Homo sapiens: one gene and its partner. The gene in region 1 interacts genetically with each later gene. Each region holds a gene or a part of one and is shown in the gene's direction. Other genes may lie near its edges.

Region 1 (4,143 bases):
AAAATTATCCCTGGGCAAACAAATACACAAAGATAAAAGAGCAAAAATCCTACCCACAGGCAACTATAAGATAGAAAAAAATAGTTTGATTAACGACTTGAAGTGCTGAACAAACATTTAAGAACTTTGGCAGAAATTTCTGAAAATTCTAGTCCAACCGCGAATCAAGAAACACAGGTAACACTATGTTCCGTTACTGGGTTAGAGAACAGAACAGTTGGCTAGTTTGGCTAACTCATAGAAAACAAGCAAACCAACCATGCTCTGGTCCAACAATCATCAGAGCACGAGTTTCTCCTACTCAGAGTCGGTCCCATGGGGGAAAAAAAAGCCACACAGGAGCGGGATCTGTAGTTAAGGAAGATAATTAGAGGACGATTTTCCTTTTTTTATTTCTCTGTATTTTGTAAAGCAACCACCGAGGTAGGGGCGGGGAGGGAGTGGTTAATATTGCGGATATTAAGATATAAATAAAGGCAGATGAAATGAAGTTAGACTTTCACAAAGAACGAAAAACCTACGAATGCTCTTGGCCTCATTAACAAGGAACATAAGCAGTTCCAGATGAGGAACCCATAACAAACTTCAAATAACGAAACTGTAGGGAGCAAGGGAGTCCGTGAGAGTATTTTAAGAAACTGGGACCCAGGAAGACTAAGTTAACGGATGGGATATCATGCTGTCTATATTTCTTTACACACTGCTATGCTTTATTAATTAGGTTACATTATAATGTTAAATAACTAGAAGCGCTGGGCATTTAAAGTTCTTCCAGACCGCCCTAACCACTCAAATTATCCTAATTAGCAATTTTTTTTAAGTTAAAGACTATTTCAATCGCAATGGGTCGGTTTCTATTTCAAAGATGTAAAGGAGTCAACATTCTGGCACTTCCTCTTGGCCGGCAGGACGAGGTTGACAAAGTCGGCCAGACAAGGTAGGGTTATGGGGGCTGCCCAGTCCCGTGGGTCTCTAGGCAGTGTGTTCTCTCTTCCGAGGTGGGGGTGTCCCCGGCGCGAGGAGCTAGCTGTGGTCACCGAAGCCCACGACCAAAGCGGGGGCCCCCAGCGCTTGGGGCCGCCTTGCCTCGGCCCAGCCGCGCACCTGGACCCCTAAGGCAGCCCCCTTCCCGGCGCTCCGCTGTCCCGCGGCCCCGCAGCACCGCCCAGCCCGCGCCAGACCCGCCTCCAGCCGCAGGGAACTACCTACCGTGCGCCGGCCCCTGGGCTGAAAGGCCTCTGACTACGGGCTATGTAACAGCGCCACCAACGAGCGGGACGGACAGAGCGACTCCTTCCGACTTCCGGAGGAAGCGGAACGCTACCGGAAATCGCGGGGAGGGTCAAAGGAGACCCGGTCTCCGAGGCTCATGGCGATGCTGGTCCTAGTACCCGGACGAGTTATGCGGCCTCTGGGTGGCCAACTTTGGCGCTTCTTGCCTCGCGGACTCGAGTTTTGGGGCCCAGCCGAGGGGACTGCGAGAGTCTTGCTGAGGCAGTTCTGCGCGCGGCAAGCGGAGGCGTGGCGTGCCTCGGGGCGCCCTGGCTATTGCCTGGGAACCCGGCCCCTCAGCACTGCGAGGCCGCCACCCCCGTGGTCGCAGAAGGGCCCCGGAGACTCCACGCGCCCCTCGAAGCCCGGGGTGAGTGCACACCTGGAACCCTTCTGGTGCTCGTCGCGGCTGTCGGCCAGCCCAGCGGCCACATCCCACTTGGTCGTAACCTCAGACACTACTCCGCCTCCCCTAAAGTTGTCCTTAGCTTGCGCGCCTTACCTGGGTCATGGAATTTCATCCTACATTTCCCGTGCCTTGCGGGTAGTCCCAGTTCTCCACAGAGAACTTGAGACTTTACACCCTCTCCACGTGGCTGGATGCCCCGACTTGGATTTTATGTTAGCGTTTCCATCAAAAAAAAAAAAAAAATTAAGTTTCAGGTTTTCTTAAGGGTATGAACCTAAAGTTTACCGTGATTGAGAAGTCAGAGGACTTTTATAATTTGTCACTTGAGCCCCATCCAGAGTTCCATGTATACGTTGAAATTGAAACAAAAAGTGGAACTTAGTTATGTGTGGATCTGCCTTTTTCTTGGGGTTCTCTCGAGTTCTAATTCTGACCCAGAAATAACTTGAGAGCCACTACCCTGTGGTAAGAGAAGTGGGTTTTTGGAGCTACGGGAAGGTTAATGAGTTAGGCCTAGTCTAGTTGGCCAACATCATCTTCATTTGGGGAGTTGAATAAGGGTACAAAGAAATAATGGGTGTAATTTGCAAGAAGCTCCACTTTTAGATTCCTCTTCTACTTTGGCATTGTTACTTCTGGAAGCCAGAGTTAAGTTAACCTCCCAAATTTCGTTTGGTCTATTTATCTCAGTATCAGCATAAGCAGATAATTGTTTTTTGTGTGTGTGTTTTTGGATTTTGGTTTTTGTTTTGAGACGGAGTTTTGCTCTTTTGCCCAGGCTGGAGTGCAGTGGCCCTATCTCGGCCCACTGCAACGTCCGCCTCCCGGGTTCAAGCGATTCTCCTGCCTCAGCCTCCCGTGTAGCTGGGTTTAGAGGGGTCCGCTACCACGCCCGGCTAATTTTTGTATTTTCAGTGGAGATGGGGTTTCACCATGTTGGCCATGCTGGTCTCAAACTCCCGACCTCAGGTGATCCACCCGCCTCCGCCTCCCAAAGTGCTGGGATTACAGGCGTGACCCACCGCGCCCGGCCATAATTGGTTTTAAAGTCATTACTGGAGCTAGGGTCACACATAGTAACAATCGTGGTACTTGAGCTTTTTTTTTTTTTTTTTTTTTTTTTTATTTACATGAAGAGAACTGACTTAGGGAACTTTCCCCTGGAGATGAATGCCTTTGTAGTTCAGATCCCAGACCTAACTGCATCCACAGAAACTTTGAGCATTTTCTCATCCCTGAAACATTTTGCACATTTAACATCATGGCCTGTGTGTATGTATATTAAAAACTACTTTAATAAGTTTGTATGGTTAAATGTTTGCATCTTACTAGAATTTTTATGTTTGAAATCCCTGCCCCAGTAGCCTGTTTCCTGGAAGTCTTTAGCAATCACATTTGCTATTGGAGGAGCTTTACTGGCTGGAATGAAGCACGTCAAGAAAGAAAAGGCAGAGAGTAAGTAGATTATCATCTGCTCAGCCCTGTATAAAGGTCTTCCTGGCTATGGACTAGCACCTTTTTTGTTGTTTTTTAGCTTTTTGTTTTGAAACAACTTTAGATTTACCAAAAAATTGCAAAGATAGCATAGGTTCTACATACCTTTCACCCAGCTTCCCCTAATATTAACATCTTGTATAACCATGACACATTTTTCATGACTAAGAAATTTTAAATGGCACACAACTATTAAATTACAGATTGTATTTGGATTTCACTTGTTTTTCTATCAATGTCTTTTATTTGTTCCAGGATCCAAGCTAGGATACCACTGCATAACAATGTTAAAAGATATACTGTGGATAGATTTGACTGGGCAAGATGAAATCTGGAGGGTACGAAGATGAGTAAGATGTAGTCGAGCCTTTGAGGTGCACACGGAAGGGAAACAGACACAGAAGTAAAGTATTTTACTAGATGCGATTCTGCCAGGCCAGAAGGAAGCTTACCATGTTGTGAGAGCAAAAGCAAGTCCCAGCCTTGAGATTTGAGAAGGCTTCCTAGAGATCAGGCAAGGAGCATAGTGCGAGTAGATACTGCATGCCCTCTGTGGATGAGGGGGAGGTGAAAAGAGCCTGGTCAGGAAATGCCAGGAACTGCTCTGGATTAGCATCTTGAAATATTTAGAAATTATTTATAAGAACTTTGCATTTTAGTGAATATCCTAGGACTTTTAAGATTTGGTTTAGAGGTTTTAGGTAAATCTTTAAAGTATTGCTTAAATCTTTCCATTCTTTGGAGTCTCTTTTGATAACATTATATACAAAGGTTAATGATTAAATCTGGGAATTCATAGGCTTTAGGAACTTAGCAGTGTTAAGTTTTGTACTGACATACATATATATGAGACTCTTTGGCATAATAAGTAGTATTGGGTAAGATTTTCATAGTCTAATAAGCAGTAAGTTTCTTTAGTTTCACAAAGAAACAAAAGCTAGGAAAGTTGTGGCGGGAAAATTCTAGAA
Region 2 (3,500 bases), on another chromosome or scaffold:
TCCTGAGCAGTCATTCAAAATTTATTAACTCTAGTTGGCAGCAGTCTAGATATATTGGGGAAATGGATTTAATATAGGCAACACAAAATTTGGACTGAAAGTAGAATACAGTTTTATGTAATTGAAAGTGAGAAAAATGGGAGAAACCACTTAAAAAACAAACCCGAAACTCTAGAAAGAACAAGAAGGTATTAGAATAACTATTGGAATTAAGTTATAGTAATTGCTTGTGAAATAAGTGGAATATTATGTCACATTTATGCCTAAATATAAGCAGTGTTAGATTCTTAATATCCTATACGTGAGTATACTTTTATGAATATACTTTTATTATTGATGCAAAGTGTACTGAATGTGTAAAACTTCAAAAAAAATAACATTTTCCAGTTCCTTATGGACTCATTTTAAGGTACTGTGTTATAAATAAGTACCATTTCAGCAGAGAAATTGGTAGAAAATTGTTTGAAGGAATGGTTTTCTTTTGAAAATAAAGCGAGTATTTAATCTGAACCTTAGTTACTGACATAAAGGAGACTAACGAAGAACTGAAGTGCAGACTTGAATTTTAAGCAGTGTGACATGGGGCTTTGGGCAGACCCGCTTGGATTTGATTATTGGCTTTGTCAGTCTGTAAGCTGGACAGTCTGCAAAATGGGGACAGTAATGCCAATCTCACATAGTCCTTAGTGAGGACTAAATGAAACAATATATGTAAGTACCTTGTAAGTACTGTAGTGCTTCTGGAGAGATGCAGGTCCAGGCTGAGCATCCCTACTCAAAATATTCAAAATCTGGGCCAGATTTGCTGGCTCACACCTTTAATCCCAGCACTTTGGGAGGCCAAGATGAGTGGATTGCTTGAGCTTGGGAGTTCAAGAGCAGCCTGGGCAAAATAATGAAACCCTGTCTCTACAAAAATATTAGCCAGGCATGGTGGCGCACATCTGTAGTTCCAGGCTGAGGTAGGAGGATTGCTTGAGCCCAGGGGGCTGAGGCTGCTGTGAGCCATGATCACACCACTGTACTCCAGCCTGGGCAACAGAGCAAGACTGTCTCAAAAAAAAAAAAAAATCAAAATCAAAAATCCTTCAAAATTCAAAACTTTTCGAACTGACATGATGCCACAATTGGAAAATTCTATGCCTGACCTCATGTGACAGGTTGCAGTTAAAACTTTATTTCATGCATAAAATTATTAAAAATACTGGCTGGGTGAGGTGGCTCATAACCAGCAATCCTGGGAGGCCAAGGTGGGAGGATTGCTTGAGTTCAGGAGTTAGAGACTAGCCTGGGCAACACAGCAAGACCTTGTCTCTACTAAAAATCAAAACAATTAGCTTGGTGTGGTGGTGTGTGCCTGTAGTCCCAGCTACTTGGGAGGCCGAGGCAGGAGGATCGTTTGAGCCCGGGGTGTCAAGGCTGCAGTGAGCCATGATTGTGCTCCTGCACTCCAGCCTGGATGACAGAGGGAGACCCTGCCTCAAAAAAGAAAAAAAAAGTTAGTATAAAATTACCTTCAGGCTATGTGTGTAAAGTGTATATGAAATATAAGTGAATTGCGTGTTTAGACTTGTGTCTTATCCCCAGGATACTGCATGATATATATGAAAATATTCCAAAATTCAAAGAAAATCCAGAGTCTGAAACACTTCTGGTCCCAAGCATTTTAGATAAGGGATGCCAACCTCTAATGGCATTCAGGGCATAAGACATTCAGGATGTTAATATGATGTAATAAGCAATGATTTGATGGAGTGGTCATAAAAGAGTGAGACTCATTTTCATGTCTGGATCATGAAATTTGTTAATTTCTGTTGTGTTTTGTAAATTAGTGCACCTACATACTGTATTGAGAGAAGGACTTTAGGATGCTGTTTTTAAGCTATTATGTGAATTGATCTGCTGAGTAACAAGAAACACTTCCAAGTGTTTATATTATCTTTTTTGTGCCTGTAACTGCTCTTTGTTAGAAAAGGGATATTATGTTATCCCCGTCCCCATTTTACAAATGCCGAAACTGAAGCTTAGAGAAGTAATGTAATTATTAATAAAAATATAGAGCTACCGGGCCGGGTGCGGTGGCTCATGCCTGTAATCCCAACACTCTGGGAGGCTGAGGCAGGTGGATCACCTGAGGTCAGGAGTTCGAGACCAGCCTGGCCAACATGGCGAAACCCTGTCTCTACTAAAAATACAAAAATTTGCCAGGCGTGGTGGCACACACACGCCTATAGTCCCAGTTACTCGGGAGGCTGAGGCAGGAGAATTGCTTGAACCCGGGAGTCGGAGGTTGCCATGAGCCAAGATTGCGCCATTGCACTCCAGCCTGGGTGACAAGAGTGAAACTCCATCTCAAAAAATATATATATTTTATATATATATATATATATATATATATATATATATATATATATATATATTTATATATATTATGTATTATATATATTTATAAATTATATATTTATATATTTTGAGATGGAATATATATATACACACACATATATATACACATATGTGTGTGTATATATATATACTTTTTGTATATACGTATAGAGAGAGCGAGAACGCGCATGCGTGAGTAGCAAAACTAGGACTTGACCTTTGTTTTGACTCAGAGTACTGAAAAGCACTATTACTTTTTTTTTGGAGTTGGGGGTCACTTTTCCATGCTGCTCTGGATTTGGATATTGGGACTGGCCCTGTCTTGGGACTGTCATTAATTATGGCCCTTTGCCTTCATTTAAACTTAATGTTTACAGAAAGTTATTATTGATTATATTGTGAGAGTGTTTGATTATAGGTATAGTGTTATGATATGAAGCTTAAGGATTTGATGAAAATACTAATACTCATTGATAATAAAGATTGGTGGTAAGATGGTAAGATGGTTACTCATATTGATAGTGGGAATGTAAATGAGTAAAACTTTTCTGGAAAGCACTTTGGCAGTATTTATTAACAAGCTTTTAAAAAAAGTTATGCATGCCTTTTGAGCTTGTAATTCCATTTCTAGGAATCTTTATTAAAGAAATCAGAGATGTCGAAAGATATTCGTGTTCAAAGATGTTCACTGCAGCAGTATTTAGCAAAAATTAGAACCTTAATGTTCAATAAAAATTAGAGAAATCATGGAAAATTCATAGAATGGAAATAATATACAGTCATCTTAGATGTTTCAGAAGAATTTTAGTGACATACTAATATGCTAACCATATAATAAGTGAAAAAAGGATATGACACTCTATAAAGTATGGTCCCAATTATGTCAAACATGTATGCAAAGAAAAGAAATAGGTGGTGAGATTATAAGACTTGATATTTTTCTCAGTTTTAGAAATGTTCTTTGATAAACAAATTATTTAAAAATAAATCATAGTTTAAAATTGATATTAACAAATATGAGTAGAGTCAGTGACCATCATTTTAACCAATAGTTTTCACTAATGCAGGTGATTGTGAAGTTGTAAATGGATTGTATTTTCAAGTTAGTTTTCACCTCT

Evidence for each region. A genetic interaction does not mean that the proteins touch.
Region 2: changes in SCO1 (region 1) and MAPKAP1 together harm fitness more than expected from each alone (negative genetic interaction), as found in Homo sapiens cells (one large-scale study listed by BioGRID).

What each region holds. Positions count from the first base shown.
Region 1 is NC_000017.11:10,694,734-10,698,876, reverse strand, and holds the start of SCO1 (protein SCO1 homolog, mitochondrial), read left to right. Parts: upstream 1-1,343; 5' UTR 1,344-1,369; coding exon 1,370-1,642; intron 1,643-3,045; coding exon 3,046-3,136; intron 3,137-4,143. UniProt on the Homo sapiens protein: Copper metallochaperone essential for the maturation of cytochrome c oxidase subunit II (MT-CO2/COX2). Not required for the synthesis of MT-CO2/COX2 but plays a crucial role in stabilizing MT-CO2/COX2 during its subsequent maturation.
Region 2 is NC_000009.12:125,697,209-125,700,708, reverse strand, and holds part of MAPKAP1 (target of rapamycin complex 2 subunit MAPKAP1), read left to right. Parts: intron 1-3,500. UniProt on the Homo sapiens protein: Component of the mechanistic target of rapamycin complex 2 (mTORC2), which transduces signals from growth factors to pathways involved in proliferation, cytoskeletal organization, lipogenesis and anabolic output.